Regions from separate parts of the Homo sapiens genome. Here region 1 is linked to region 2. Evidence: fine-mapped expression QTL. A gene starts in region 2. The other region holds a variant in brackets. All regions are shown on one strand. Distances are from middle to middle.

Region 1 (16,592 bases), 34 kb before region 2:
ACATATGTATACATGTGCCATGCTGGTGCGCTGCACCCACTAATGTGTCATCTAGCATTAGGTATATCTCCCAATGCTATCCCTCCCCCCTCCCCCGACCCCACCACAGTCCCCAGAGTGTGATATTCCCCTTCCTGTGTCCATGTGATCTCATTGTTCAATTCCCACCTATGAGTGAGAATATGCGGTGTTTGGTTTTTTGTTCTTGCGATAGTTTACTGAGAATGATGGTTTCCAATTTCATCCATGTCCCTACAAAGGATATGAACTCATCATTTTTTATGGCTGCATAGTATTCCATGGTGTATATGTGCCACATTTTCTTAATCCAGTCTACCATTGTTGGACATTTGGGTTGGTTCCAAGTCTTTGCTATTGTGAATAGTGCCGCAATAAACATACGTGTGCATGTGTCTTTATAGCAGCATGATTTATACTCATTTGGGTATATACCCAGTAACGGGATGGCTGGGTCAAATGGTATTTCTAGTTCTAGATCCCTGAGGAATCGCCACACTGACTTCCACAATGGTTGAACTAGTTTACAGTCCCACCAACAGTGTAAAAGTGTTCCTATTTCTCCGCATCCTCTCCAGCACCTGTTGTTTCCTGACTTTTTAATGATTGCCATTCTAACTGGTGTGAGATGATATCTCATAGTGGTTTTGATTTGCATTTCTCTGATGGCCAGTGATGATGAGCATTTCTTCATGTGTTTTTTGGCTGCATAAATGTCTTCTTTTGAGAAGTGTCTGTTCATGTCCTTCGCCCACTTTTTGATGGGGTTGTTTGTTTTTTTCTTGTAAATTTGTTTGAGTTCATTGTAGATTCTGGATATTAGCACTTTGTCAGATGAGTAGGTTGCGAAAATTTTCTCCCATGTTGTAGGTTGCCTGTTCACTCTGATGGTAGTTTCTTTTGCTGTGCAGAAGCTCTTTAGTTTAATTAGATCCCATTTGTCAATTTTGTCTTTTGTTGCCATTGCTTTTGGTGTTTTGGACATGAAGTCCTTGCCCACGCCTATGTCCTGAATGGTAATGCCTAGGTTTTCTTCTAGGGTTTTTATGGTTTTAGGTTTAACGTTTAAATCTTTAATCCATCTTGAATTGATTTTTGTATAAGGTGTAAGGAAGGGATCCAGTTTCAGCTTTCTACATATGGCTAGCCAGTTTTCCCAGCACCATTTATTAAATAGGGAATCCTTTCCCCATTGCTTGTTTTTCTCAGGTTTGTCAAAGATCAGATAGTTGTAGATATGCGGCATTATTTCTGAGGGCTCTGTTCTGTTCCATTGATCTATATCTCTGTTTTGGTACCAGTACCATGCTGTTTTGGTTACTGTAACCTTGTAGTATAGTTTGAAGTCAGGTAGTGTGATGCCTCCAGCTTTGTTCTTTTGGCTTAGGATTGACTTGGCAATGCGGGCTCTTTTTTGGTTCCATATGAACTTTAAAGTAGTTTTTTCCAATTCTGTGAAGAAAGTCATTGGTAGCTTGATGGGGATGGCATTGAATCTGTAAATTACCTTGGGCAGTATGGCCATTTTCACGATATTGATTCTTCCTACCCATGAGCATGGAATGTTCTTCCATTTGTTTGTCTCCTCTTTTATTTCCTTGAGCAGTGGTTTGTAGTTCTCCTTGAAGAGGTCCTTCACATCCCTTGTAAGTTGGATTCCTAGGTATTTTATTCTCTTTGAAGCAATTGTGAATGGGAGTTCACCCGTGATTTGGCTCTCTGTTTGTCTGTTGTTGGTGTATAAGAATGCTTGTGATTTTTGTACATTGATTTTGTATCCTGAGACTTTGCTGAAGTTGCTTATCAGCTTAAGGAGATTTTGGGCTGAGACGATGGGGTTTTCTAGATAAACAATCATGTCGTCTGCAAACAGGGACAATTTGACTTCCTCTTTTCCTAATTGAATACCCTTTATTTCCTTCTCCTGCCTGATTGCCCTGGCCAGAACTTCCAACACTATGTTGAATAGGAGTGGTGAGAGAGGGCATCCCTGTCTTGTGCCAGTTTTCAAAGGGAATGCTTCCAGTTTTTGCCCATTCAGTATGATATTGGCTGTGGGTTTGTCATAGATAGCTCTTATTATTTTGAAATACGTCCCATCAATACCTAATTTATTGAGAGTTTTTAGCATGAAGGGTTGTTGAATTTTGTCAAAGGCTTTTTCTGCATCTATTGAGATAATCATGTGGTTTTTGTCTTTGGCTCTGTTTATATGCTGGATTACATTTATTGATTTGCGTATATTGAACCAGCCTTGCATCCCAGGGATGAAGCCCACTTGATCATGGTGGATAAGCTTTTTGATGTGCTGCTGGATTCGGTTTGCCAGTATTTTATTGAGGATTTTTGCATCAATGTTCATCAAGGATATTGGTCTAAAATTCTCTTTTTTGGTTGTGTCTCTGCCTGGCTTTGGTATCAGAATGATGCTGGCCTCATAAAATGAGTTAGGGAGGATTCCCTCTTTTTCTATTGATTGGAATAGTTTCAGAAGGAATGGTACCAGTTCCTCCTTGTACCTCTGGTAGAATTCGGCTGTGAATCCATCTGGTCCTGGACTCTTTTTGGTTGGTAAACTATTGATTATTGCCACAATTTCAGAGCCTGTTATTGGTCTATTCAGAGATTCAACTTCTTCCTGGTTTAGTCTTGGGAGAGTGTATGTGTCGAGGAATGTATCCATTTCTTCTAGATTTTCTAGTTTATTTGCGTAGAGGTGTTTGTAGTATTCTCTGATGGTAGTTTGTATTTCTGTGGGATCGGTGGTGATATCCCCTTTATCATTTTTTATTGTGTCTATTTGATTCTTCTCTCTTTTTTTCTTTATTAGTCTTGCTAGCGGTCTATCAATTTTGTTGATCCTTTCAAAAAACCAGCTCCTGGATTCATTGATTTTTTGAAGGGTTTTTTGTGTCTCTATTTCCTTCAGTTCTGCTCTGATTTTAGTTATTTCTTGCCTTCTGCTAGCTTTTGAATGTGTTTGCTCTTGCTTTTCTAGTTCTTTTAATTGTGATGTTAGGGTGTCAATTTTGGATCTTTCCTGCTTTCTCTTGTAGGCATTTAGTGCTATAAATTTCCCTCTACACACTGCTTTGAATGCGTCCCAGAGATTCTGGTATGTGGTGTCTTTGTTCTCGTTGGTTTCAAAGAACATCTTTATTTCTGCCTTCATTTCGTTATGTACCCAGTAGTCATTCAGGAGCAGGTTGTTCAGTTTCCATGTAGTTGAGCGGCTTTGAGTGAGATTCTTAATCCTGAGTTCTAGTTTGATTGCACTGTGGTCTGAGAGATAGTTTGTTATAATTTCTGTTCTTTTACATTTGCTGAGGAGAGCTTTACTTCCAACTATGTGGTCAATTTTGGAATAGGTGTGGTGTGGTGCTGAAAAAAATGTATATTCTGTTGATTTGGGGTGGAGAGTTCTGTAGATGTCTATTAGGTCTGCTTGGTGCAGAGCTGAGTTCAATTCCTGGGTATCCTTGTTCAATTCCTGGGAACTCCCTGACCCCTTGCGCTTCCCAGGTGAGGCAATGCCTCGCCCTGCTTCGGCTCGCGCACGGTGCGCACACACACTGGCCTGCGCCCACTGTCTGGCACTCCCTAGTGAGATGAACCCGGTACCTCAGATGGAAATGCAGAAATCACCCGTCTTCTGCGTCGCTCACCCTGGGAGCTGTAGACCGGAGCTGTTCCTATTCGGCCATCTTGGCTCCTCCCCCTGAAAGAGTATTTATTTCACTACTATACTTAAGGGATACTTTTGCTGGATATAAAATTCTGAGTTGACAGCTTTTTTAAAATCACTTTAAAATATCACCGTGTCTTATTAAAAGTGAGTATTTAAATAATTGTCTTTTATGAATGTAATGTTATTATTATTTGTAATTTGGCTGTGTTCAAGTTTTTTTTGTTAACCTTTGATCTTCAGCTGTTTGACTATGACGTGCATAGTTCTTTATATATATTCTGCTTGATGTTACTGAGACTCTTGATTTGTAGATTAATTTGTTTCACTAATTTTGAAAAATTTCAGCCTCATTTATTCAAAATGTTTTTAGCTCCATCCACCCTTTCCTCTGTTTGGGGGATTATAATTGCACATTTGTTAAATATTTTTATATAGTTCCACAAGGCCTAGAGGCTTGCTTTTTCCCCCCAATATTTTTCTCCATTTTTCAAATTGGATAAGTTCTATTAATACACCTTTAAGTTGGCCGATTCTTTTCTCTCTCATTTTAATTTCACTGTTAAGCTCATGGTATAAATTTTTTAGTTCTCATTTTTTTAGTTTTAGAATATCCATTTTGTTATTTCTTATAGTTTCTATTTCTTTGCTGAAATTTCCTATCATTTTATTCATTGTGAGTGTTTTACTTGAAATCATTGAATATGGACATATGAGTTGCTTTAAAATTTTTGTCTGCTAATTATGTCTGGATCATCTTAAAGTTTGTTTTTGTTGACTGTCTTTTCTCTTAAGAATGGATCACATTTTCCTGTTTCTTCATGTGCCCAGTAATTTCATATTGTATCTTGAACATTTTGAATGGATTCTGCTATATTACCCTGAAGAGTGTTATGATGTATGTTTTCCCCCTAGTTTATTTTCACAGGCAAATAACTCTGTGGAACTACAACTACAGAAACCTATAAAGCCTGTCCCTTGGGCAGCAGCTTAAATCTCACTTTAGTTTATTTTTTTTTCTCTAGTGCTGTTTGGAATACATCCCACGTATGTGTGATTCAGGAGTCAACCAAAGATATGTGAAATGTTTATAAATAAAATTTGGGGATTCTCCTCTCTGGCTTTCTCTTCTCCAGGATTTCCCTCTCACATTCTCAGCAGCTCTTGTTTCCACAATCTCTGTCCTTTGTTTCTCAAGATCAGAAACAGTGCAGGTTTTCGACTGTAGCTTTACCTGTCCCAGACTGGAAGCTTCCCTCAGGTTAAAAGGTTTGAAAACTGGAGCTTGACTAGTACTTGCTGTTCTTTTCTTCCAGGTCTCAACTCCTCTCCAGTAGCTACAAGCATTTGGTCATTCTTAAGGCCTTTAGGTAGAATTTTTTTTTATATTGTTTTCAGTGTTCATAGTCATTATTACTTGAAAGGGTCAGTTCATAAAAGCTGATTTGGAATCCTAGCTTGATGTTTTTATTGCCTGTATCTGTTCTAATGTCACATTTCTTACTCTTGATATTGGTGATTTTCTCTTTCTCTCTGTCTCTTTCTCTTGCTCCTGCCCACTCTTTTTCCCTCTTTCTCTTTCTCTCCTCTTTCCATCCTTGTCGTTCCAATTAGTATTTTATTCATTTTTATTAGATTTTTTTCATATCTGGCTTTGATAATTTCCTCTATTTTTTCTTTTTCTTTTTTTTTTTTTTTTGCCCCTGTTTCATTAAGTTCTGCTTTCTCTTATTTACTGTATGCTACTTTACTTATGTTTCAGCTAGTGATCTTTTCCTAGCTTCTTAATATGGAAACTGAAATAATTGTTTTTGTAGGCTTTCTTATTTTAAAATGTATACCTATAAAGCTATAAATGTTCTTATGAATGTGGCTTTAGGCACATCTCACATGTTTCGATATTTCACAATTTTATCAGAATTCAGTTAAAATATTTTATAATTTTCATTAGGTATTTTATTTAATTTTCTTTATAGATCCTCAATCTCTGCTGAAAATTTTTAACTTGTTAATTTTTTAAACACATTAATCAAGTTATTTTAATATTTTTGTCTGATAATTCAAATATTTTCATAACTTACAGATATTTTTCCATTTTCTATTTGTTCTTTTAGTTTTTGTTTACTTTGTCTTGCCTCTTAGGATGACTTGTAATTTATTATTTATAACACATATATATATAACATTATTAGGTATATATAAATTTATTTAAGTATATAACTTTCTATTTCATATATATGTATAAAACTTTCCTTCTGGCAGTTAGGGGAAGATCACCTCAGTCCAACTTGGGATTGATCTATATTTTTATCTTTGTGAGGTCTGGTCTTTCTCCTGTTTACCATTAAGCTTAGGGAGTAGATCCTAGGGGGCCTAATTCCAGATTCTGGGATGTTTCCTAGGGTCCAACTTCCTTGGCAGCCCCTGAACACCAACTTATGTTTTCTAAGCTTACTTATAGTGCACAGCATTCTACTCAGATATTTTTGTTTCTTTTTACAGATTATTGTGATGAAAGATTTTCTTTTCTCCTGGAATTTGCTCCTTTGATTTAATAGTTTTGATAAGTCTCTGATGGCTTCAAACAAATTTAAGAAAATATTTTATTCTCCATTGTACGCTTGCTCTCATTGGTTTGATACATGTTAGTCTATCATATACAGAAAGGGGTGTGCTACCTTGATACTTTTGAATTTGCCCTCACCTCTAGCAATACTGTTAACTAATTATATTCAGAATATGGCTTGTGCTTTATAATTTTGATCAAAACTACTTTCAAATCTCCAAGCCTTTTGTTTATTTGACCACTACCATTCACAAAAAGGCATCTACAATTTATTTTTTCCATGAAGCTTTTTTAAACCTTCCAGATATATGTTATCCTCCTATCTTTCAAACATAATGACATTTTCAGCTCATAATGGTTATGCGTCTCATTCACATTTTCTTAGAGTATAAATTAATGAATGTAGTTTCCATTAACCAGGAAGGAAAAAAGAAAAACAAGAATTCCATTTAGGCTTCAGAGGTGGGACAGGGTGTCATTTTAGGTGGAGCAGCCAGGGTAGACCTCAATGAGAAACTTACATATAAGCAAAAGACCTGAAATTAACCATACAGATAGCTGAGGAAATAATTTTAGGA[A/C]TAGATTACAACCAGGGATGGGCCCTAAGTCAGGAGCCAGCCCATCTGATGTACTTAAGGAATGGTGAGGGGGGAAGTGCAGACAGAGCTCAGTGACCCAAAGGAAGAGTAGAGGAGATGGGCTCAGATAATTGGGAGCCTATCAAGTAGGGACTTTTAGGATATTCTTAGGCATTTGTTTTTACTCTGGGAGAAGTGGAGGATTTAGAACAGAAGATTGATATGATTTGACTTACATTTTATAATGTTCTCTCTGACTACTGCATTGAGCACATTGTTGGGGTGTGAGGGATATGGCAAGGACAGAAGCAGGAAGACCATATTCCAGGTCACAGATGTGGGAATGTGGCCACTTGGATCAGTGAAGTCGCAGAGTGGGTAGTGAGAAGTTGAATTCTGGATTTCTTTTTGTTTGTGAAAACAGACCCAATAAGATGTTCTGGCACATGAGATATAATGGAAAATACTCCTCGGCTGTTTAAATTATTATAATCAATCAAATTTCTATGCCCTAAATATTATTCTCCCTAAAAGCCCTTTTCGTCAAAAGTAGTTCTATTGCCTGAACCATTCTCCTATACACTCTATGATACCAAGGACTTCATGGCCTGCTTTGGTGAACATTGAACTTATGATTCTTAACAACTGCAAAGGGTTTTTGAATGTTTTAAACAATGTTACATTCTGCCATCACTGATAAATCACTTTCAGAGTTGGAATGCTTCAACTCAAGGCCACTAGATGGTGACCTCTACTAAATTTTAATACCAGTGGATGGAATTTGAGGTATTGATTATATTTACTAAAAATCATATTCAATATTACAATATTAAAATTGGAAGACACGAACGTGGCTGTTATTATCAGGCCAAGAAGGGTCAAATGACTTGAGGAAATTACACAACTATTAGCAGTAAGAGCCAGTGTTCGTTGAGGGCTTGTTATGTGCCATCTACTTGCTAGTTTTGTAGGTACGTATTACAAATTAGGATGACATATATTTAATTTATATGGCATAGCTGACCAATGTTAGAGTTTTTTCCTTCTGCTTTCAAAAGGAAAGTTAACATTTTTAAAAGTAATCATTTGGTCTCATAAGTTGCATTATATTGCAATTATTAAGAAGAAAGATTATGGCTCATTTTTCTTCTCCTTAGATTGTTGAGAAGTAAGAAGGCATATCATTTTTTAAAAAGTAATATCTTTGCCAATGTCTTTTTTTTCAGTTACATTTTCTTCTACACTAGGTTTTAAAAAAGGCTCCCAAAATACATTGTCAAAAGTCTGCCAGAATGGAATTACATATATGAAAATTTAAAGCTGTATGACCAGTAGATGCTGCTTTCATCACACAGTTTCTAAATTCTAGTTTGGGCAGGTCAGAAAAATCATCAACTATAATTAAATGAAAAAAAAATGTGTATGAAAACCACCCCTGTTATTTGACTCAGCATCTCTTTCTTATTGCCTTTCTGCATTTCTACATTTGCCTTTGCTGTTTGGACTTAAGGGAGCTTAAGAAGATAGATAAGTATTTTACCATATACCTCAGGAAGTCTTAGAAATTCTTCTGTCAGCAGTATTATTTGTAGGTGTTTTAATATTCTGCAAGGTATAAGAATTAGTGCAATGATTTCTGATATGGTTTGGCTGTGTCCCCACCCAAATCTCATTTTGAATTCCCACATGTTGTGGGAGGGACCCGGTGGAAGGTAATTGAATCATGGGGGCAGGAATTTCCTGTGCTGTTCTTGTGATACTGAGTAAGTCTCACGAGATCTGATGGTTATTATGAGGGGGAGTTTTCCTGCACAAGCTCTCTTCGTCTGCTGCCATCCATGCAAGATGTGGCTTGCTCCTGCTTGTCTTCCACCAGGATTGTGAGGCCTCCCCAGCCATGTGGAAATGTAAGTCCAATTAAACCTCTTTCTTTTGTAAATTGCCCAGTCTCAGGTATGTCTTTATCAGCAGCATGAAAACAGACTAATGCAATTTCTAAAGTGTGTATTTTACTGACTTTATGGATTAAGAAGTCGTTTTCATGATGCGTGTACTCTACTGAGCAAAAATTAAACAAATCCATATCAAAAGCAATTTTTTTGTAATTTGTATAATTTCCGTTGCACCCCCATCTTATCCTACTTTATATTCATTCAAAATTTAAATAGCCTATTATTGTGTGTATATATTATTATTATGATTCTCACGTACATTTTAAATTCATTATTTAATCCTTTTTGGATATCTATATAACCCAATATTTGATGACATTTTAAGTCATTTCCCCAAATTTTGGGCATAGACAATAGGTTTACCATATCAAATCAAAGTATTACCAAGCCACAGAGAATGATCATTTTAAATAGGTTTGTTGTCAAATTCCTCTCATGGAAATATTGTTATAGTTTTAGTGCCACAAAAATAATCTTTTTAGTTCCCAAACTGAAACTTGTCATTTAAGAAAATTGTGATGGTCCAATATATTCTATAATAACTTGCCCATTAGAGTTTGGATATTATCCTAGTTTTCTTACATCAGAACAATAATGTATTTTGGAAATAAAACAGTCATCTGAAATATAAATATATTTCTCACTCCATGTATTTTTGTTGTTTTTGCTAATATACTCAATTGCTGTATTTTATTTAATTAATTTATTTTTACTTTTTGTAGAGACAGGTCCCATTATGTTGCCCAGGCTGGTCTGGGCTCAAGCGACCCTCTCACCTCGGCCTCGCAAAGTGCTGGGATTATAGGCATGAGCCACTGCACCTGGCCTCAATCACAATAATAGACAAGAAATTATTTTTCATTGATTGTGTATTTAAATAGTTTCTATTTTTTTCTCGAATCTAAAGTTTGCTATTATTCCACTATAAATAACATTTATATTGGGAATATCTGATTTGTCAGAAGATGAGAGGCTCAAAGGGCGTACACAGAGACCATGTACAAGGACTCTTGTAATCTTTAAATACTTTCATTGAGTAACTGAATATATTTTCTCCTTTCAGATTCTGGTTTTAACTCCATTTTGCTGAAATCAAGGAAACATCTCTTTTTACATTTTATCTATTATGCCTGCTTATATACTGAGATATTTAGAGTCTTCAGTCAGACTCTAGTAGTGGTTAGGTACATTTACACATAGGAAGGACATATACTTTGTAAATTTGAGTATTTGTCTTCTCATTTGTATCATACACTAGTGTAACTAATAGTTCCCTAACCACCGATACTTGCCAATCAATTATTACAATAAATCAAGTGTTAATTCTACCACATGAACCTTAGCTTCTGTTTCAATATCTATAAAATGAGGAATTTATGTCCAACACATTTTCAAAAGCTTGTTTTAGCTGAAACTCCATTTCTATGAGTCCATAGCTGAGCTTGTTGATATTTAAAAGTCTCCACTAAAGGCTATTGATTCATGGAAATATATCTGTAGAACACACAATATTATTTAACCACCATTCTCTCAAGTATTTCTGTTCATAACAGGCTGCAAGATACTCTGGTATTGAATCGACCAATTTTTATGCAATTTATATTGCTCATTTTCATTTTAGATTAATATTTTCTTACCTTACACTTAGAAAATAAATAAGCAATTAACTATGAATTAAGATGCTTTGGTCTCAGATCCTTACTTGACCTTCACCAGGTGTGGGACTATGGGCTTGTTACTTACCTCTCAGTAGCCACAACTATTAAATGGGAATAACGCTAGCATTTCCTTTATTGGGATGTTTGAGGATTAAGTGATATAATACACTAAAAAATGTGCCTGGGAACTTTGCATAAAGCCATTGCTTTAGAGAATGTTGATATAATTATTTGTACAGATAATTGTGAAAGTAGGACACAATAAATGTAGCTTTTCCACAGGAGATAAATGTGACAATATATGGTGGAAGGACACTGAACTATATCCTAAAATTAGACAGCAGTGATTATTCCTTTGTAGTTATTAACATTAGTTTGTTTTGTTATTTCTGCATTCTAGGTAGTCTACATATTATAGATTACAATATGCTAAAAAGAACCTTGGCAATCATAAAATCTAACTCCTTTATATATATGTATAATGAAATCAGTGGGTCTAAACAAATTCCCTAAAAATCACAAAACATATTAGGAACAGAGCTGAGTTTGGAACCCTTTATCAGAGAGCTTTTGCCATGTAACAATCCACCCCCAAACATAGTAGCTTAAACTAATAATAATTTGCTTAGCTCACAATCCTGTGGATTGGTAATTTGAGATGAAATCAGCTTGGTGGATTTTCTGCTGGTCTTTGCTCATGTGTCACAGTCATTTGGTGAGTTGACTAGCATCTGAATTATCTAGGATGACACCATTCATATGTCCAGGTTAGCAGGCTCTTGGCTAGGGCAGTAGGGGTTCCTGGGCCATGTGTCTCTCATCATCTGGCAGGCTAGTCTGGCCTTATTTATATGCTGACAATGGCAGGGGTCCCAAGAGAAGGAAGGGTGGATGCTGAGCCTCTTGTAGCTTAGGCTTGAACTTGTATAGCTTCAATTCCATTGCATCCTACCGTCAAAGCAAGTCATGAAGCCTGCCCAGATTCAAGGGGTGGGGAAATAGACTCTATCTCTTGATGGGAGGAACAGCAAAACGTTTGTGGCTATTTTCTCCTCCTCTTCCCCAGTCTCACAACACCCATCAGCTAATTTTCAGGCTATGGCTCTCTCAATACAGACTACCTACATAAGCAATTAGATATGATAGCTTACCTTTCTACTTAGCAGTAACTTATTTTTGTCTAGGAAATGTAGGAGTCTTTACTGAAGATGTGATACTTGAAGGTAGAGCTTGAAGAATGAGTTTTCCAGACAGAAGCTTAAAAAATTGAATTCAGATAAAAGGACAAATATGTGGAAAAGCTCAGAGTTTTAGAGAGAATGACAGGCTTTGGTACAGTGAGAAACGAGCATGACTTGTGGGTTAGATCATGGAGGGGAAACGTTGGGGACAAGGGGTTTGATCATGGAGGGGAAATGTGGGGGACCAACAGGCTGGAGGAGTCTTCTAATACCCAGAATTTTTCTTTGCAAAGTGGTGTGGTGAGGGGAGACTCAGTTACCTAGTTTCATTCAAGAATATGTATTTAGTTTACAAGAGGCAGTAAGGTAGCATTTCCATTAGGAAAAGGCATTTTTCTCCCCAGAAAGGGAAATCTGAACAAATTACAAGTTCTACAAATTACAGAATACTGGTACGTAGCCGAGGCTCTATGGAGGTTCAGGTGACAGGAATTTCATCATCACAAGGGCGTAACAGAAGCATGAGCTGGAACCTGGGAAACAAGAAAGAGCCCAGTAGTCTGCACAGGTCAAGTCATCAAAGAGTCAGAGATATAGGTGACTGTCTGGGAGTTCAGGAAATATGACATAAATCAGTCAGCTGGCCAGATGGTTCTATCCCAGCACTTCCTGTCTCAGAAAGAGCAAAGGAAGTGAGGCATCATGAAGACTGCAGGTGGCAGAAATCAATGTGATTGATGAAAGCAGACAGAGGAAAAGGCAACATCAAAGTGATGACAAAATTCTTTATCAATCTGGCACATTAGTTACTACTATAACTCAAAAGGAAATCAACTTTGGGCTACATTTGCAGCTCTGTAAAAAATGGATGAACTAAATGCCATAAATTAATGACATCAAGTAAGACTACTTTTATCTTTTATTTCTTAAAGATGATAAAACAGGTTAAGTGACCTGGAATGCCGCAGCTGAAAGTGTTATTTTGTATCTTTCTGCTTGAATAAATGGAAGCATTATCAGCTTCCATTTGTTCATATCCACCTAACACTGTCTTCTATTTCCCTAATTCAAAGTATGTTTAAATTAATCATGTATTCTTTGAATTACAGTATATATGCTGACCCTTGTTTTTAGTTGAAAACCTATTTAAAAATTGATTTAGCAATTTGTTTTCTTTGTTTCAGAGGACCTTATCATGTCCTTCACTGTATCCATGGCAATCGGGCTGGTACTTGGAGGATTTATTTGGGCTGTGTTCATTTGTCTGTCTCGAAGAAGAAGAGCCAGTGCTCCCATCTCACAGTGGAGTTCAAGCAGGAGATCTAGGTCTTCTTACACCCACGGCCTCAACAGAACTGGATTTTACCGCCACAGTGGCTGTGAACGTCGAAGCAACCTCAGCCTGGCCAGTCTCACCTTCCAGCGACAAGCTTCCCTGGAACAAGCAAATTCCTTTCCAAGAAAATCAAGTTTCAGAGCTTCTACTTTCCATCCCTTTCTGCAATGTCCACCACTTCCTGTGGAAACTGAGAGTCAGCTGGTGACTCTCCCTTCTTCCAATATCTCTCCCACCATCAGCACTTCCCACAGTCTGAGCCGTCCTGACTACTGGTCCAGTAACAGTCTTCGAGTGGGCCTTTCAACACCGCCCCCACCTGCCTATGAGTCCATCATCAAGGCATTCCCAGATTCCTGAGTAGGGTGGCTTTTGGTTTTTGTTTCTTTCTTGTCTTGTCTTTTATTGAAAGGAAATCAAAAATAGGCTAAACAGAATTTTGAGGGCATGGCCCAAATAACTCATGAGTTCCAAGTTGAAACATGGTTGTGCAAGTTGGACATTACAATGTAAAACACATTTTCTTCAAACACGTTTTCCCTTTTGTTTCAAAAAATGTAATATTTTCCCCCAAGCGTTTTATATTTATGTATTTTGTATTCAATGTGAGGCTTATTAAAAATAGTGATTCTAATGTAAGAATCAGCTAAGATGCATTATATATATTTTAATTAAAATTAAAACTTCAGATATTTGTGGATTACAATCCTCATTTACTTCCAATGTGACTAAAAAGAGAAAAAAAATCACTGTGTCACTTTAAAGAAAAATCTTCTAAGGGATTTGGATTTTACTTTCTTTAGAATGACAAGTGAATCATATTGACATTTTACAATCTTAGATTTTTCTTTTTTTTTCTTTTGAGACAGGGTCTTGATCCGTCGCCCAGGCGGGAGTTGCAGTAGCATGATCAGGACTCACTGCAGCCTCTATCTCCCAGGCTCAAGTAATCCTCCCATCTTAGTGCCCCAAGTAGCTGGGACTACAGGGGTGCACTACCACACCGGGTTGAATTTTTTTTTAATTTTAGTAGAGATGAAGTGTCACTATGTTACCAAGGCTGGTCTCAAACTCCTAAACTCAGATGATCCTCCTGCCTCGGCCTCCCAAAGTGCTGGAATTAGCCTGGCCAATCTTGGATTTTTAATGGAATATGTGGGCACAAAATGACAGAACATAGGACATTCTAAAGTTCCTTGATTTGATCATTATAAGAAGTGTGGGACTCAAGCACAGGAAACTGAACTCTTTTGGTGTCATTGGATGTTTCATTTTTGACACTAATTTTTTCTGGACAAACTCTTTATGTGTTTTTCCCAAGAATAGTTATCTACTTCCTGGAGGCAAAATCCTTGGATTTACTAACATGATGATTTACCTTTTCTTCACCGTTGTCGTTACATTGTTAGAAAAGCAACAGGAAAAAATCCAATTCATTTGACCTAAAAACAAGCCTCAAGTTTAAAACCAAGCTCACGTTTTTCTTAAGGGAAAAATTTTCTTTCTTAAACTTACATCTAGCAACTTGGAAAGCACTTTCTCTGGGGATCTTCTTTTGTAACTTTGCAGACAAATAAGTATGAGTCACTGGGGAGAGAGTTTGTTATTGAAATAGATGTTGCCCATGAAGAATTCTCCTTCCTGGATTGACTCTTAATCATCAGGCATCATTCCTGGTTTGCTTCTCTACGAATCTCAATTCCAACTTCTCTGCAGAGTCTGTACAGTGATTAAGCCATGCCAGATGGTCTTTGGTGCACACAGTTATTTAAGAATCCACTTCCACAGGTGGCTGCCCTTGTAAGGAAGAATGCATCCCTAAATGTGGCCACCAGAGAGTTCCAGTGGGCAGATGTCTGTGGCTGCCCTTCTCATTTAAGGACATGAGTTCACTGGAGTATTACTCAAAAAGTCTGTGGTTCATTTCCAGTATTGTGAATATTTAGTTTATGTGGCCGTTTCTTTGTTTCTTTGAACAGTGGGATTTTCAGTGAAAAAGTACCCTCTTTTTCATTTCCTATTGCAGTGGTCACAGCTAATAGTGTCTGAACATGGTTCAAGAATAAGAGATTCCATGTAGCATTTTCTTTATTATTTTCATTTCCCTTATATTATCCATCATTCCTTAAGGACAATTATTCTTAATAATGCTTATAGAAAATGTTCTCTAATTAAACATGCCAAAAGGAAAAAGTAAGAGAAAGAGGGAGCAAGAAGAAAATGGAAGAAAAAGGGAAAAAAGCTAACCGGATAACCAATTTGTTATAAGTTGGTTTTCAACAAAGAAATTTAGCAGCCAAGTAAGGTTTCAAGGGAATATTAACTTGGTATCAGGGCTACTTTTTTTTTTTTTTTTTTACTTGCATGTCATCCTTAATGTCTAACATGAAAAATCAGCAAAGAGTATGGTTTTTATCAAGAATTTGTGTTGGGAGTAAAAACTGCTTTATAGCTCCCAAATTAGGAAGAGAAGAGCAGAAATCCTCTGGGGCATTTAACCATCTGGCAGAATTGTTGCTGCACCCTTATCCCAGTTATAAGACAGTCAAAATGACTATTTCCTAAATATTGTGAGTGTATGAAATGTGAAATTAAAGCAAAAACTGGAGACTTTTAATGTATTTCTTTAATTTGAAATGTTTTGTGGATTGTGAAATAAAAATAAATTTATGTCAAGTTTTATTCAAAATTCATTTATGAAATAATGCCAACACTGTTCTAAAAAGCAAGGAGTCAAGAAATTATAAAATTCAGATTAAATCAGGAAAACACATTAGATGGAAAATTATACTATAGAATTTGAGCTTATTAAAATTTATTGCATAAGAAAAGTCTCCTTTTTACTTTGGTATTTAAACCTAACCTAGACTATTTGTAAATGAATAGACTGAGACACAAATCCTTTTTCATATAAAAATGTATAATGGAGAAAGGGAACATCACAAATAAATTTTACAAGATTTTTAAAATTAATGCAGATGGAAGAATTAGTAAATTATTTATTTAAAACATGAACTTAGAGTCTTATCTCATTAGCTAAATACATAATTACAGAATTATTTAATTATTTTATTTAGGGAATAAGCATTTTAAATAATGGCTATCTAAAAAAATAGAGGAAATTTGAAATAAATGTTTAGCAAATCTATGAAATAGGAAAGGGGTACTTTTTAAGAGCCAAAGGGATGAAATAAATTACAAAGGAAAATATTAACAGTTTTGATTATTTAAAAAAATTTAAAATTCTGTTCATTAAAAGATAAATTTATCCAAAATCTAAAACAAGCAAAAACAAAAAAAGAAGAAAGAAGTTAAGTTAATATAAATATGGCAAAAATGGCCAATATCTTGAAGTCATGATTAGCACACATAAATACATATGGAAAATACTCAGTTGTAAATAGATAAATTAGTAATGGACCAAAACAAGCAATTCACCAAAGAGAAAAATTAATTGATTTACAAGTTTGTGGTAAAATACTGCATGTTACTACTAAGAAAGTGCCCATGTACATTTAAACAACACTCTAGTAGTTTTTTCTATCACATTAGCTAATTATTATTATTATTTGAATAAAGACGGTGTTTTGCCAAGTTGGCCAGGCTGGTCTCAAACTC
Region 2 (16,592 bases):
GATGACTGCAAAAGTGTTTCTCATTTCCTTAGTAAGAAAAATGCCAAGAATAGTCCTTGTGAATGTAGAGAAGAAAGAAGCACCCTGTGCCTTCTCTATCTAATACTTAGGCTCAGCACTGTTTTGACAGAAAAAGCGGCTTTCTCTCTTTCCCTCCATGGCATTTCGATTATTTTGTAGTTGTTGTTGTTGTTGTTGTTTTGACAGAATCTCTCTCTGTCACCCAGGCTGGAGTGCAGTCACATGATCTCAGCTCACTGCAACCTCTGCCTCCTAGGTTTAAGCAATTCTGCTTAATTCTCCTGCCTCAGCCTCCCATGTAGCTGGGAACACAGGCATGCACCACCACGCCCGGCTGATTTTTGTATTTATAGTAGAGATAGGGTTATGCCATGTTGGTCAGGCTGGTTTTGAACTCCTGGCCTCAAGCAATCCACCTGCCTCAGCCTCTCAAAGTGCTGGGATTATAGGCATGAGCCACTGCGCCCGGCCCTTGCGTGGTATTTCTTTGAGACACCCTAAAGGCACTGCAGCCACAGAAAGGAGTGTGGACCTAGGAAGCGACTCCCCGTTAGGATGCATCTCAACAACATTTCTTTTGGTTGTCATTTGGGGTAAGAACTATTTGCAAGCAAATGTAAATCACTGGATTGAACTGCCTGTTAACATCATCACTACACATTGCTCAACCGTCCCGGTAAATCCGGAGGGTCACAGCAGCAAGGCAACCATGCCCCACTCCCCACTCTCCATGCTCTATTCTGTGGGTTTTGAATTTGCTGGCCTCACAACCCACTTGAAGAGAAAGGTGAAAGGTCCAGATCTCAGCTCCGCTACTCATTGGAAGTCACTTGCCTTTTTTCAGTTATGAAGTTGCTAAAATTTCTCAAAACAAAGTGACAGGACTAAATTACCTTAAATTCTTTCTAGCTGAAAATGATGGTTTTATGAGTCAGAAATGAGAACATTAGTGTTCCAGACTTGGAAGTACAGGGAAGTAACTACAGATACAGGATATTAGAATATATGATTAAGAAGAATGGTGATTTTAAAAGCTTATCAAATAGCTGCAGCTCCTGCTTCCTTGACAGGGAGAGTTTCTTTCCTGAGGGCCAGGCGCCAGCAGCCCTGGAGACGCAGGGCCCAGTTTGCCTCAAGTCTCCTTCCCAAGGCTACTCTACACCTCCTCACAAAGACCCCATGAGGATTTGGTGTCTGGCTTCTGGCAGCACATTGACCTTTTCTCTGCAATTGTGTCAGCAATGGATCCAGCTTCTTTTCCTGGAGGGGACTCGAGGAGCATCAAGGGCCTGAATGAACTTCTAATGTATTTGTGTTTCAGCAGCAGTCTTCAGAAATCAATTGTTCACCAATTGGACAGACCGGCTCGGGGCTAGAGTGCCCTTCCTCCAAGTTCCCACATTGATTATTTTAAGAGTTCTTCCAACTCAAATGAAAAATACCAAAAATTTTAAAACATGCAGGCCTTCTGAAGCTATCCAATCCTAAAATTAAATATTGGGTGTGGGAATGGGAGTACACTAGGAAGGGTCCAGGAAGGACTCAAGGCTCTTTCCAAAGGTGAATTGAGGAGAGTTTAATAAAGAGGTAGAATTGAGGAGAGTTTAATAAAGAGGTAGAAGTAGTGAGGTAGCGAGTAATCCATGAATGAGCCTCAGCAGGGAGCCGTTGGCCCCTCTAGGGCTGCAGGAGAGAGGCCACCCTGCAGAAACTGAATCTTGCGGGAGGAATGTAGTCTCTTCCAAGCCATGGCCTAGGGGAATAAATACCCAGAACTCTCTTTCCCTCCTCTTTGGTCCTTTCATTTCCAACCAGCACGTCTCTTTTGCTGAGCCCAGCCAGCAGCCAGAGGACCAGGGTGTGGACGATGTAGTCCATAAAGGTCAGCCTTCAAGGAAATAGAAACAGTGAAGAAGAGCAGAGAGGGTTCCCAGCAGAGGCGGGAGCTGGGGGGAGAGCCTGTGGCGTCAGATCTCTCCCAAGAGTAAGCCGAAACTCAGGGCTCCTGGGAGGTCCTCTAGGGCTGAGGCAAACTGAAAGAAACAGGTTTAGCTTTAGGGCCAAGGAATGGGTTGAAGAAGCCTAAGGTGAGGAACCAGGTGGCAAAGTTGGAGACCAGCTGGAACAACTGAAGAACAAAGAGAGGGAGGGAGACATGTGGCCTCCAGGGTCAGGGCAGGCCTCCATCCTGCCCCCGTGCTCCATTCTAGGACAAATCTCAAAGTTACCAAGCTTCGGTCCCAGGGCCTCTTTGAAACTGGTTTTAACACTAAGTAGGATATAGGGTCCCTGGCAGGCTCTTCCCAGGCAAACCATGACTATACACAATTCAAGGCCATTGTAAAGTAATGGTGAGTATATATTTTCACAGGCCACAGAGTAAAATGAACACAAAAATTTGTTTTTAAAAATGTTTACCTCTGCCAGGTGCAGTGGCTCACACCTGTAATCTTGGCGGCATGGGAGGCTGAAGCAGGAGGATCACTTGAGCTCAGGAGTTGGAGGCTGCCTTGAGCTACAGTTGTGCCACTGCCATCCAGCCTGGGTTACAGAGACAGACTCCAAGTCTAGGGGAAAAAAAGTTTAACTTGATCATTTCTAGGTAAAGGCAATACTTTTCAGATTTAAAATTCTATCATTTCAGATTTTCTGTCATTTCAAATGTTGTCTTTCAGATTTGAAAAGAGGATTTGTCTCCTCTTTTCCCTCAGAGTAGCATCTAAGCTTCTGACAGAGCAATGTGAAATCTGGGAGGCTTCCTCTGGGCACTTTGGAGATGGTCTAGGGCTGGCTGTCATCGACTGAAATATGCAGTGACATCTGGTCCCTGGGTGTGGACACCCACGCTGGCTCTTGGTAGGTTGTTTAAAACCTGTCCGTTGCTAGGCCCTTTCCACTCTTTGTTCCTTGGATGGTATTTTGGGTTTTCCTAAGCAGGGTGTGCAACTATCATCCAGGTTTGTCTCCCGTACCATTATGCAGAGTGTTTCTCCATGATTTGCTTTGTCTTATGTCAACCAGATGTGAAATGAAGCCAAGTTAGCCTCTATTGTTCAGCCCCTACACTTGATAACACAGGGTTCTGTCATCCATCCCTTCCACTCTACCATAAACTCACACCAGCTTCCCCATCTCAGAGGCTCTTCCCTGGCCTGTGGAGAATAGATGTAGTGGTAGAGGGGCCATGAGAACTCACTCAGAAAATATTCTTGCCAAATCTTCATTCTAACATCTAGACTGCAGCTTTCTTAAGGTTAAAAGCCAGAAATTAGACATGGTTGTTTTTCATTTGATCCATATAGTAAACACAGAGGGTGATTGAGTTGAAGGCTGGTTGCATGGAATGTGTACAGTCATCTCCCAACACCCCGGCAGACGCCTGAAACCACTGACAGCACCTAACCCTACATAAACCATGTATTTTCCATCTGTCAACAAATTGGCTAAGTGACTACCTGGGAGGTAGCATAGACAGCACAGATATGCTGGACAAAGGGATGATTCACATCCCAGGCTGGACTGGGCAGGATGGCAGAAGATTTCATCATGCTATTTGGAATGGCACACAGTTTAAAGCAAATAAATGGTTTATTTCTGGAATTTTCCATTAATGTTTTCAGACTGCTGTTGACCACAGGTAACTGAAATCATGGAAAGAGAAACTGCAGATAAGGGAGGACTACTCTATGTGGTGGGGGAACATATACATAAGAGATGACATTGTGAAGTAGGTAAAATTGGTTTTAAAATCTTTAATACTCTATTTTTCAACTTCCACATCTTAGTATTGTGTGTTCCTGTGATTTCTCTATACCCTTCTTTTTGAAATCTATTTTCAGGAAATCGTCTGATACATACAACCCTAATAAAGTTCGAATGACTTGCAGCACTTGCATTGTTCTTTCTACATGTAATTTGATTTGAAGCAAAAAAATTCTGAGACAAAGGAATAATTTTCTCTAAACTCAGCATCAGTAAGTGGGACAGATAACGAGGTTTTGGAGTTAAGGGAGAAGTTGTCCTCGATCATATCATTTAGATCATTATTTGTTTTGCTTTATATTTGCTGATATATTTTTAGATTCCGAAATGAATTCTAATAGGTAACTTTAAAGGGAAAATTTACCTTTATTGTAATATTATTTTCATCAAATCACTAATATGACAAGAATACAAAATCCTGAAAATAAGTTCAAATTTTCTAATTTAAAAGAATTGAAAGTGTTTATATATACTCTAATATAGATGCTTTAAATATATAAACTTTTAATATGCTATACAAATATACGTATGTATATACATCTTATGCAAATGTACACTTTTAGTAAAAGTATACATGTATATTAAATGTATGTATATATTCTGTATGTTATACATATATACATGTATAATATATTGTATAGAATATATGTATTTATGTATATATAACATATACAGTACATAATACATTATACATTAGGTATATAAAATATATATACGCAAATATATATTTCCTAATACAAGTTATTGAAAGATATTGGATTTAAGACTATTAAAGCAAACATATCATCTTAAATATCTGCCAAACAGGAGGATCTAGGGGATTGAAAAACTTTTTTTGTGAAAGATCAAATAGTAATTATTTTAACCTTTGAGAGCTGTGCAGTTTGTTGCAACTATCCAACTTTGCCGTTGTAGCACAAAAGCAGCTATAGAGAATACATATATGATGAAATGCTTTTATGTTCCAACAAAACTTTATTTATGGACACTGACGTTTAAATTATATATAAGTTTTGGCCAGGGAGGTGGCTCACACCTGTAATCACAGCACTTTGGGAGTCCGAGGCAGGCGGATCACTTGAGCTCAGGAGTTCCAGACCAAAGCCCGACCAACATGGTGGGCACCAGTGGTCCCAGCTACTCTGGGGGCTGAGGCACGAGAATCGCTTGAATCTGGGAAGCAGAGGTTGCAGTGCACCAAGATTGCACCACTGTACTCCAGCCTGGATGATAGAGTGCATGAGACTCCGTCTCAAAATAAAATAAAATAATAACGTATAATTGTCATGTGTCACAAAAAGTTCATTTAATTTTTTTAACCATTTAAAAATATAAACATCATTCTTAGCTTGAGAGATGTAAACAAACAAAAACAAATGAATGAAGAAACAAACAAACAAAATCCAGAGGGGTCAGTCTATTTAGCTCACAGCCTGTAGTTTCCAGACCTCTGATCTAGACTTACCCACTCAGGATTACCAACGCAGACATTGGCTAAGTCTCAGGACTGGAGGTGAAATAGGGTGAATTAGGCAGGTAAAACCACCATAAAAAGAGGCAGAAGAGCACAAGCTTAGGCATTTAATCCATAATAAGAATATGGACCCTCTATTAGTATTTTGCACTAAAGAAAAAAAGGCAAATTTGGATTTCTGCTAATATCCTGAGCTTGAAAATCCCTTCCATCTAATTTCCTTGCATCCAGTATGTTTGAATTTAGAATGCCAGTTTTATTTCCCTGCTCTTGGTTCTGTTGGTGAAAAAAGGGGAGAGGAGATGCCAATATTTTTATGAGCTGTCAATTTCCATATCTGACCTGCTAGCATCAAAAAGGTGATAGCAACAATTACAGAATATTACCAATTCTAAATTGAAAGAATGCTGACTCAAAATCAGACGGTCTATCTTCCAATCTCGTATTTGTTATTAACCACCTGAGTGGCAAAAATTACTGAAACTTTCTGGAGATCAGTTTACTTATTTGTAAAAGAAGGATCTTGAAGATTTTTCTATCCATGTGAATGAATTATAGTTCCCCTTATTACAAACATCACTTTACTGAGAAGGCCTAAGGCAAAAATAAACTTTGCCAGAAATGTAGGCAAATTATGGAAGAATATGTCAAAGTACGGAAAAGACACATTTAAACAGTAAATTCAAGTTTGTATCTTTGTACTTATTTACTAAGTTTTATGGTAACCGAGAATTCAGGATAAATTTGACTGCAGTACTTTTTCTTATGTTTATTTTTTCTGGAAGCATCCAAAAGTTAAGCTGGCTACAGGACCTCTGGTTTACAATTCATTTCCTTGAAAGAAAAGAAGAAATAAACACAATTCTATAAAGTCTGTGAATTAAAACTTTGAACCTGCAGATGGTGCTATGATTCCATTTTCAAATTGTTTTGCTTTCTAGTTTAAATTCATAAGAGAAAATGCAGTTGTTTGGTTGAGTTTACTTTTATTCAGAGGTAATAAAATTGAATTATTTCTTTTTATTTTATCTTATTATTATTATAATAGAAGCAATTGTCTTTTGTATTGGGAAAAGCTACTATAGTTACTCTTTGTAAATGCTAAGTGCTTGCCTAGGCCAAATAATGATCAGCTTTACATCTTTTATGTTTAAAATTTTTCTTCTTATCATTCAGCAGTCATTTGTCTGTGACCCTCAATTAAGTTGCTTTGCTGTTTCTGCTCTTAAATAAAATTGGTTCACTAAGAATTGGGTGATGAAGAGCTAAGGATAAAAAAATTCCATATGAGAACTGTTTCAACCTCTAGTTTGTAATAATCAGGTAAAAAAGATTTCCTGGAATTAAGCCACAGGAACTCTGGCTTAAGTCAGAGCTGTCAACTGGGAAACAAATTTCCAGACATTTTGAAACTTAATTCATTTAATTTTTCTGGTAACTGGATTAGAAAATATGATTAAGCATAGCAGGATATTCTTTTACTGGATCAGTCTGACTTTGAACGAAGGAAATAGATACTACAATCTTAAAGTAGAAGAAAGAGGACTGTAAAGCCATTCTGTCTTATGAAACTTAGAAACAAAATGTAAAAATAATACACATGGCAGAAAGCCTTTAAAATAAAAGGAAAAATGGCATTTTCCTCTGTTGTTTAGGAAATTTTTCATGTGGCTGCATTTTTACCTTAAACTCTGATTGAATGTGTGCTAGACTACCTTTAGTTACAAATCCACAAATAGAAGTGAAGTATTTATCAAAGTACTATATAAATGCTTTTCAACTATTTGAAGCCACCTGTCAAGTGATTGAATCAGAAATGTTCAAAACTGGTTTGAGTATGTGTGTGTGTTGGGGATGAGGGTAGAAAACTAATTCTACATTATGCAAAGACTTATAAAAGTGATGAGGAAAATCTTTAAAAAGAAAAGACAATTAAATTCCTTGAGGTATATAGCCTGACAACAATTTATTTTTTGGATCATTTGACACAGTGTATGTAAAAGTGCATTGGGAATTGTGCCATTTTATACAAATATGAAATAGCACTACTTGTACTGCTTTGTACAACAGCGTGCATATCTTACTATCTTAGAGACTTTCTGAAACACTTATCTTGGAATTAGTTTCAACAAAGACGAAATGTAATAATAGGAAGGTGAAAATTATCTCTAGAGCTTTTAAAGTTAGGATAGATTTCAAGAAAGATTAAATCTGGAACTATATGAATAGCATAAAAATTAAAAATATTAAGAGAATTGATACTTTGTAATAAAGTATAATTATACTTTTATAAGCGTAATGAACATAAGTGTTTGTTGCTTTATGCATTTGTTTCTACACATGAAGTCTTTATTTTCTGAAGGAATCCCAATGGCCCTGGCTATAACACTACAATCATTTTCTTATTTTACAATTAATTAAAGGTTAAAACATTTCACATTGAGCTTGCTACTTTGTTTGTTTAAAGAAAAGTAAATTTCCTCTTATCTTACATTTTGAAGTTGCTCACTATAAACTTATATAAATTAGGCATAATGACAATTAAGTAAGAACTTCAAGCCCTATTCATCCCATGGCCGTCATACTGTGACGTCTTTCAGAGCACTTTGTGATTGCTCAGTCCTAAGTATAAGCCCTATAAAATGATGGGCTTTGAAATGCTGGTCAGGGTAGAGTGAGAAGCACCAGCAGGCAGTAACAGCCAACCCTTAGCCATTGCTAAGGGCAGAGAACTGGTGGAGCCTTTCTCTTACTCCCAGGACTTCAGCACCTAAGACAGCTCCAAAACAAACCAGAACAGTCAGCTCCGGGGGAGCACGACTGGGCGAGGTAAGTGAAAACTTTACCTTTCCTCTTCTTTTTCCCTCCTGCCTCTGGAACTTTTCTCACAAAATAATGAATTTTTCTCTCTTGAAAAGAATTTGATAGTGCTTTGCTTTTGCAACAGCAAAAAACAAGTTTCTCAAGTCACCTGGTAAGGATAGAAATACTTCAATTTCTCTCATATGGATAGATTTTCTGAATTCTTTTGTTTGTAAGATGCTTTACCCTGCTTGCTCTTTTACTGAATACTGATTTTTACAAATAATTCATTCAAGTAAAGTTTACTTGTATGTAGATTTTTGACTGAAAATTTCAGTGGGAACATTTGCTTTTGAAATTTTCAACTTATTTTTAAAGTGCTTTTTTTTTCCTATTTCGTATGTTGGTTAAGTGAATCTAAGATGCATTTATTTTTTCCTTAAGTTTAAATTCCATAATTTTTATAGGCAGCAAGAGAAACAGACCTTACTCCTAGGCTTTTAATCTAGAAACTAGAAATGAAATGTGTAAGTTGATTAAATGCAAGAAATGCAAGCTTTGCTTTTAATATATATTTTCCTCTTATGGAAAAATTTATTTCAATGACAACATATGATTCAGTAATATTTTGAGTATTAATATTCACTACTGAGTTAAGAAGTTCAAATCCAGGTGTAAGGAAATAAGTTTCCGTAATATCTACAATTGAAAGAGGAAAAAGTAATGTATATACAAAATCTTTTTTAAAATTATATGTATATATACACATTATATTTATACATTTGCACACACACGAGCAGAATAATTATTAAATAGATGATACTCTAGTCTTATATTAGTCAGATACTGAAATTTTAAAGCAGAAGAAAATCAATGTCTTGAAGCTGTTTCCTTCGTCAAAAAATACACTAAGCTTGAGTGGTACATCCCTGTTATGAAAAGATTGTCCCCAGGGTTATTTCCAGCACTATAGAAGTATGGCATTCAATAGATACTGGGGCCAACCATGTGCCCAGACAGCAGGTGAAAAGGATTCTAATTTTTATTCAAGCACCTGTCACTGAGAGAAATACTGATTTTTGAATGTATCATCTTGCAATTTAACTCTTTCTACAAGATGAAAATTACTCTTTACAAACTCTGCAAGAGCCATTGAAAATTACTGCTAGACAATCAGAATTACCTTGCTGGTGACATCTTTGGCTGGAAGAACTGAGGTGATTCTCTCTCTTTAGAGGCACAGAAATGGACACCAGAAATAAGGCCCAGCTCCTTGTGCTCCTGACTCTTCTCAGTGTGCTCTTCTCACAGACTTCGGCATGGCCTCTTTACAGGGCACCTTCTGCTCTCAGGTAAGTTCCCTTTCAATTCAAACATCTGAACATTCCTTCCTCATCTAAATGGGAATTTCCTATACATTTTGTTGGACAACTAAATAGTATAAATTATGTATTATGTATTTAAATTTTTCCTTGATGTGTTGAGTGAGAGGTGTTTGTCAACATCAGGTCATTCTGAGTCCTGGAATTCACTTTCAGGGCATGAGAGACACTGTCAGTTATTAGTTTTATGGGCTGAGTGGATCACATTCCCAAACATGGTGAAAGGAGGCTTTCACTTTCTTTTTATTCAAAACCATCTTTAGATAAATAATAAGCTTTTATCCATTGTTATCTCAAGTCAGTTCAATTTCTGGTGGAAAAAAGCTGTTTAGTTGCCAACCACATTTGAGTTTATTTTCAAGATTAATCAGTAAATAATCATAAGACTAGTAGTTGATTAGTGAAACATGTATAAAATCATGTTGCACAGAAATCTATCTAGGCAGAGTCAATTTGCCAATATTAAATATGGGGTAATTGATCTATTGAGATACACTCCCCCAATAGGAAAATTTTGATATACTTTGTTTGGACCATAAATCCTTAGTTTTATTGTTCTATATGTTATATTATATATTCCAAATCCATAAAGTATAACACAACTCTTATTTAAAACTTTATTAATGTATGCTAAAGAAGTAAACAATAAATGAAAACTATATTAGCTTGAATTTTCCTTTCAGTTTACGGGCACCACTGTATCTCCAAAGGAAAAATAATAATTGGGTTGGTTTCCTTCTTTGCTTATTAGGTCATTCTTGATTTTTTGCTTAAGGTAGACTTATGCTCAACAGAGAGAATAACCTCTTAGCTATTAGTGTTCTCTGTGAAATCTGTTTAAATACAGCTCCTGCGTTGCTTTGATAACTAAACAAAATGGTTCTATCTGAATAGTTCTACCACAGCAGATGAACAATCACAAGAATGTGGACATTTGTGTTGATTGCTAAGCTTCAGACCCACAGAGGACTAGTTGCTAGTGACTCCCAACTCCCAAATCACTGAAAGATACACAAGTGTCCAGGAGCTGACACGCTCCTTGGATGTTTGCCCTAACAGTGAAAATCTGCACACACAAAATTATAAGAGTTGCCGGTGATTGAAATATGCATGCATCCATAAATATAGTCATATTCCATATATGCATTTGACTATTCTTAGTCTTTCAGTGTAACATTGTACATCCCTTATTAAAGTTGTGTTAATACATAAGATTAGAAAAAAGAAGGCCCCATAAAACTTATTGAATTCAAATTCATCTTCATAGATGAGCTATCCATCTATGGAGACATTCTTTGAACTCTGTCAATACAGAGAAATATATAATGCCAAAGTAAATATTTGAAGCAAAGCTTGGGGGTCGAGAGAGAGAGAAGCAGTTAATACTCTGTTCTTCAGAGATGTTTGGAACAGGTAATACTGAACATCACCAAATCCATAAATTGTTATCAGTTCTCATTCAATATTAGTTTTTTGCAAGTTTCTATTTTGCATAAAATATTTCTACATACGAAATTTGACTTTGCAAAGTGAAGATATTCTTGGCATAGTAAATTACACCAAAGAAGTATAGTTTGCTTAATGCTCTGATAAGATTGAATTAAGTAGCTCTTGTGTTTTGTATATTCAGCTTATAAAAGTCATATGGCATCTACTTTATAGGATAATAGGAATTTCCTATTTATACTCTCATTAACTATATGAGCCATTAAGTCAAATTATGCTATTCTCATATTATGACTGGGTAATACTTCCCAAGAGTCTAAGTATCTTATTTTAAATGGTTGCGGAACCATACACACTGTCTTCTGAAAAAAGAATGTATTATTCTCGTGTAACTTTCCCCATCAGGTTGGGTGACAGAATACCCTTTGAGGGAGCAAATGAACCTGATCAAGTTTCATTAAAAGAAGACATTGACATGTTGCAAAATGCATTAGCTGAAAATGACACACCCTATTATGATGTATCCAGGTGAGTTTATTTTTATAAAACTATCCAATGAGTTTTATTTTAGAAAATGTGTTTAAGAACTATAAACGTGCTTATTTTATCTCACCATGAAGCTATTCCGATAGCAAAACACTAGAGGTTTCTATGTGTCATGGCTTCATTCATCCTGATTTACTGCAGATCTTACAGCTGTACATAATTTTCATACTGAAAGGTTGTAACAAGCCAGGATGAACACACCATTCACTTCCATTCTGTTGCACATAATTCCAACATCACAGATTGTACCAATTCTGATAAAAGTACAGCATTTAGCATTCCAATGATGGAAGAGTTGCCAAGGAGTTTTGTCTCTATATAAAGAAAAGATACCTGATAGAGCTGTTCATTCATAGAGCTGTTTGTCTAGAGCATCATTTCAAGTACAGACCAAGTAGCTCTATAGTACTTGGTACAGACAAAGTATAAAAGGTGCTTCATTTGAAAGAGAAAAGGTGGGATGATAGGCCTTAATGCCTTCTCTATCTTAAGAGATTTTGTTTCCAAATATTTTGGAAAAAGAAAAAAAAAGGTGTACTGGGGTTTATGAACTTTCCAAAATCAGAATATTTTCCCATTGTGAATGTCTTTATTCAGTGGGGCAGACACAAAGCACCATGTACAAATAGCAGCTAATTTAAATAGATCATATTTTTACACCAATATTTCTTAGAAAGAAATAGTTATAAAGATTCAACCATGGAGGAATATTGAAATGTGCTCCTAGAAATGCCTGTTTCTTTAATTTTTCAGTGTCTTGGGCTAGAAATATAGGGTATATCTTGATATAAGTGACTAGAAGATCTCTTTTGTTAGGGTGTTAAGAAATCTCCTTTTGAACTTTAGTTTTAATGAGAAGCTTTCATAATAAGCCCATAATTTTTTTGTTATTTAATAAGCCATAATAATATTCTAGAAAGCCATTTACAAAATAATAGCTATTTTTTTCTTCCTTGTTTTAGAAATGCCAGGCATGCTGATGGAGTTTTCACCAGTGACTTCAGTAAACTCTTGGGTCAACTTTCTGCCAAAAAGTACCTTGAGTCTCTTATGGGAAAACGTGTTAGGTAAAGAGAATTTATTATTTTTATAAAATATGTTATCATTATTCAATCTGAATATTGTATTTTCACTCTTAACAAGTTATTTACTTTGTTTGAAATTGAAAACTCGTTGATAATGTTTAATTTAGTTAAATGAAATAACTTGTATTCTTCAATAACATCTATCAAGCCCATGGACTAAGACTTTTTCATAATATCATATTCATTGACTCCAGACACACATTTTTCTCAAGTAGCAATCATTTAGCAATCTGCAATCAAATTGAACAAGACTCAGTAAAACAATCAAAAAGAGATAGTACAGACTGAGGTAAATTTTAAGGTCAAACAGAATATTCTTTTTACTTCCTGCTCAAATTAAATGGAGAATTCCAAATGGCCAACAGTCAAATATTTAGATGACGTTGCTCAGGGTAGCATAGCTTCTAAAGAAGTAATTATGTTTTTTTTAAAAAAAAAAAAAATTTCTCCCAATGGCAGAGCACAACTTCAGCTATTCCCAAATTTTTATTTTTGGATGAATTATTTGCTCAGCTGTACAGAATGTGTCATAAAACAGTCCCAGGCCATGCCAAAATATGGCAGATGATTCCTTGCTTTCCTTCATCCTTAGGTTTAGTTGTATTTTTCTTTTAGTCTTTTTATGATAGAAAATTAGTTGGGTGGGAATTGCTTTTTATGTGGCTCCAAGAAACCTGGAACATGTGTGTATTTATCATTTCTTGTGAAAACTCTTTGATTTCCTTTTCCTCATGTTCCTTAGCAGTAACATCTCAGAAGACCCTGTACCAGTCAAACGTCACTCAGATGCAGTCTTCACTGACAACTATACCCGCCTTAGAAAACAAATGGCTGTAAAGAAATATTTGAACTCAATTCTGAATGGAAAGAGGAGGTAAAGAAAAAGAGAACTTGCTAAAATGAGGAATCATGACTGACTTTCAAAATAGAAGCTGCACATGGAGACCTCTCTATCTCACTTATCTAGCTATACTACGTGAAGCAGTGATTTTCAACCTTGGCTGACATTAGACTACCCCGCAGAACTTTAAAAATACAGATGTCTGGGCCTTCTCCCAAACCAATTGCCAGGAAATCGGTGTCTTCGGTGGTGTGGCCCTAGACATACATTTCTTTTAAGAGTTCCCCAGTTGACTTTACTATGCTGCCAGTGTTAAAAATGATGACTATACAGACATCTAGTCTGAATCTAAGAGCAAGTTTCATCAAAAGTGATGATTTTTAAAACATGTAAAGCATAGTCAATTGCAATTTGGTAACACATGGAACTCACTTCGTGTGCATATTCACTACTGTTATTTAATCAAATTAAACCATTAGGTATTTTGTATATTTAGATTCTGTAAAATCTATATCTCTCTATGGTGTGTAAATATTGGACACAATACATAAACAGTGTAGTGTTCTGTCTTTTTATTCCAATTGTTTTTGTTTAAGTGATGAGTATTAAGGATAATTCTGTTTGGGTGTGATCAGACAAGATGACCTCTTTGCCCACTAGATGATAATTCTGTGAGAATAATTTTAGAAACTCTAAGATTGATGAATAATTCATAGGTACTAACAAACCTCAAAGATAATTGTTTAGCCTCCCCATACACTTTCAGAGCACAGAGAACAGCACATTCATTATGTCATAATAGTTTCTTTAGACCCTTTCTCATCTGAGAGCCTTAATATGTACAATGTTTTTCTGGTCTGCAGCAGTGAGGGAGAATCTCCCGACTTTCCAGAAGAGTTAGAAAAATGATGAAAAAGACCTTTGGAGCAAAGCTGATGACAACTTCCCAGTGGTGGGTATATTCGTGCATTCCTTCTGTATTCTTATGGCTGTCTCTGATTATATAAGTAGCTAAGAGTCACTTAGTAAGAAACATCTTAGGGTTAAATAGTTTCTCATCATGAGACCTCATCCAAGACAGACACTTCTACAACAGTGGACCCCAACCCAGTAAACAGCTTAGAATGATTCATGAAATTTTTTTGATCTTGTAAAAGAGAGCACTCACAATAAGCAAACGTTTTGAGATCTGAATAGTGTTCCTGGCTTACTTGGGGTTATTTCTACCTTTGTATCAAGATAAAAAAACAGAGGAGGCTGACTCACACTGACAAGAAAAATGGGCTTTCCTTTTGAGGATCGACCCATGCTGCTTTTATTAATTGAAGGTTTAGTCTCACAATTGACTGTTAGCTCCTCAATTAAGTATAGGGAAATAGCACCAAATTAGAGCATGGCCCATTACTATGAAAATATCAAGGCATTCTGGGTCTAACTATATTCCTTGAAACATGGCAAACTTCATAGAGCAAAAGTTAAATTTAGCTTGTTTTACCTGTAAGTTTGTTTTACCTATATGACTCTAATAGCATTCTCTGCCAACATTTTTTTTGAGCAGAAAAAACATGGATAGACTTTTTTTCTTTGTGAAGTAATAAGCTTGCTATCAAAATTGATTTTATATAAATGTGGGTTCAAGACATATTTCTTTCCTGAGTTACATTACATTAATATTCACATTCGCTCATAAAAAATCTATAATACTGGGCAAGTGCTTAAAGAAATTTCATGCTGTCACCATATCAAAGGTTAGCAGATTTTAAAGGGCTATGGAGTAAAATATGTTTGGCTTTGTGAGCCATCTATTTTCTGTTAGAGTGACTTAACTCTGCTATGGTAGCACAAAAGCAGCCACAGTTAGATGTAAAACGAATAGGAGTGACTGTGTTCCAATAAAACTTTATTCATAAAACCTGAAGGTGAGCCAGATTCCAATCCCTAACTAGGTTAAGGAGATTAAATTCACCCATGCTCAAACTAAAGGCAATTCATGGCCTTACCTCAGTTCCTGATGGGGTTATCTAAGGTTTTCAACAGTCATCAAGAGTGGACATGGTGTCTGGGAAGATACCTGCTTAATTGACTGCTTTTGTCCACTAATTACCCTTAGACCTCTAAGAGAAAGCAGAGGCAGGAGTGTGGCCCACATCAACTCTTTATCTTTTATAGACATCTCAGAGAAACAAGTCCCTTTGCTCAAAGAAGAAAGTTAATTACATATAGCTTTTCTAAGAGTGTTTATAAGAAGGCTTCTCCATCAAATTAAGAAACACGGTAGGCACTAAAATATAAAGGAGAATTGATTAATCACACTGTGCTTTGTAAATGGTAAGATCACTTATGAGATTCCATCCTCCATTCTTTTCTTTTTTAAATGGGTGGCTTTGGACAAATTCTTTGAAGAGGAAATCATGTGGGTCATCCATTAGTGAAAATTACAAGTGAATCATTAATAATGGTTAGTTAGACGTCTTTTCACATTCCAGTTCCTCTCTGATAATCAGTCCTCTAGAAGCTGCTCTCTTGGTATGTCCCAGGACATGATCCCCTGCCACAGGCTGTTAACAAGGGACAAAGAGAAATAAGTGTTTATCAGATAAGTAAATCAGTGAATGAAACTAAGATGCTAGAAATAAAATATATTTTATGCCTAAAGCAACAATTTTTTCTTTTTCAGAATTCTTGAAGGAAAATGATACGCAACATAATTAAATTTTGAGTTCTACATAAGTAATTCAAGAAAACAACTTCAATATCCAAACCAAATAAAAATATTGTGTTGTGAATGTTGTGATGTATTCTAGCTAATGTAATAACTGTGAAGTTTACATTGTAAATAGTATTTGAGAGTTCTAAATTTTGTCTTTAACTCATAAAAAGCCTGCAATTTCATATGCTGTATATCCTTTCTAACAAAAAAATATATTTAATGATAAGTAAATGCTAGGTTAATTCCAATTATATGAGACGTTTTTGGAAGAGTAGTAATAGAGCAAAATTGATGTGTTTATTTATAGAGTGTACTTAACTATTCAGGAGAGTAGAACAGATAATCAGTGTGTCTAAATTTGAATGTTAAGCAGATGGAATGCTGTGTTAAATAAACCTCAAAATGTCTAAGATAGTAACAATGAAGATAAAAAGACATTCTTCCAAAAAGATTTTCAGAAAATATTATGTGTTTCCATATTTTATAGGCAACCTTTATTTTTAATGGTGTTTTAAAAAATCTC

The links. PIP is the estimated chance that this variant, and not a neighbour inherited with it, causes the effect. A credible set is the group of variants that fine-mapping cannot tell apart.
Region 1: its variant is the best candidate, but not a certain one, in a credible set for the expression of VIP in lung (GTEx, PIP 0.50).

What each region holds. Positions count from the first base shown.
Region 1 is chr6:152,708,920-152,725,511 of GRCh38, forward strand. MYCT1 (MYC target 1) reads left to right here. Exons shown (of 2, transcript NM_025107.3): 2 at 12,823-15,650. The coding sequence ends at 13,334. Among named protein-coding and RNA genes, the nearest start is that of MYCT1, 19 kb to the left of the region's middle. RefSeq lists an enhancer at 12,270-13,469. The variant A/C (reference allele first, on the strand shown) is at 6,848.
Region 2 is chr6:152,742,874-152,759,465 of GRCh38, forward strand. It overlaps VIP (vasoactive intestinal peptide), which reads left to right and starts at 7,924. Exons shown (of 7, transcript NM_003381.4): 1 at 7,924-8,086; 2 at 9,295-9,411; 3 at 11,293-11,415; 4 at 12,396-12,500; 5 at 13,261-13,392; 6 at 14,223-14,311; 7 at 16,037-16,592. The coding sequence starts at 9,305. The coding sequence ends at 14,268. It overlaps LINC02840 (long intergenic non-protein coding RNA 2840), which reads right to left. Exons shown (of 5, transcript NR_183508.1): 5 at 12,003-15,917. It also overlaps a transcript of MYCT1 not described here.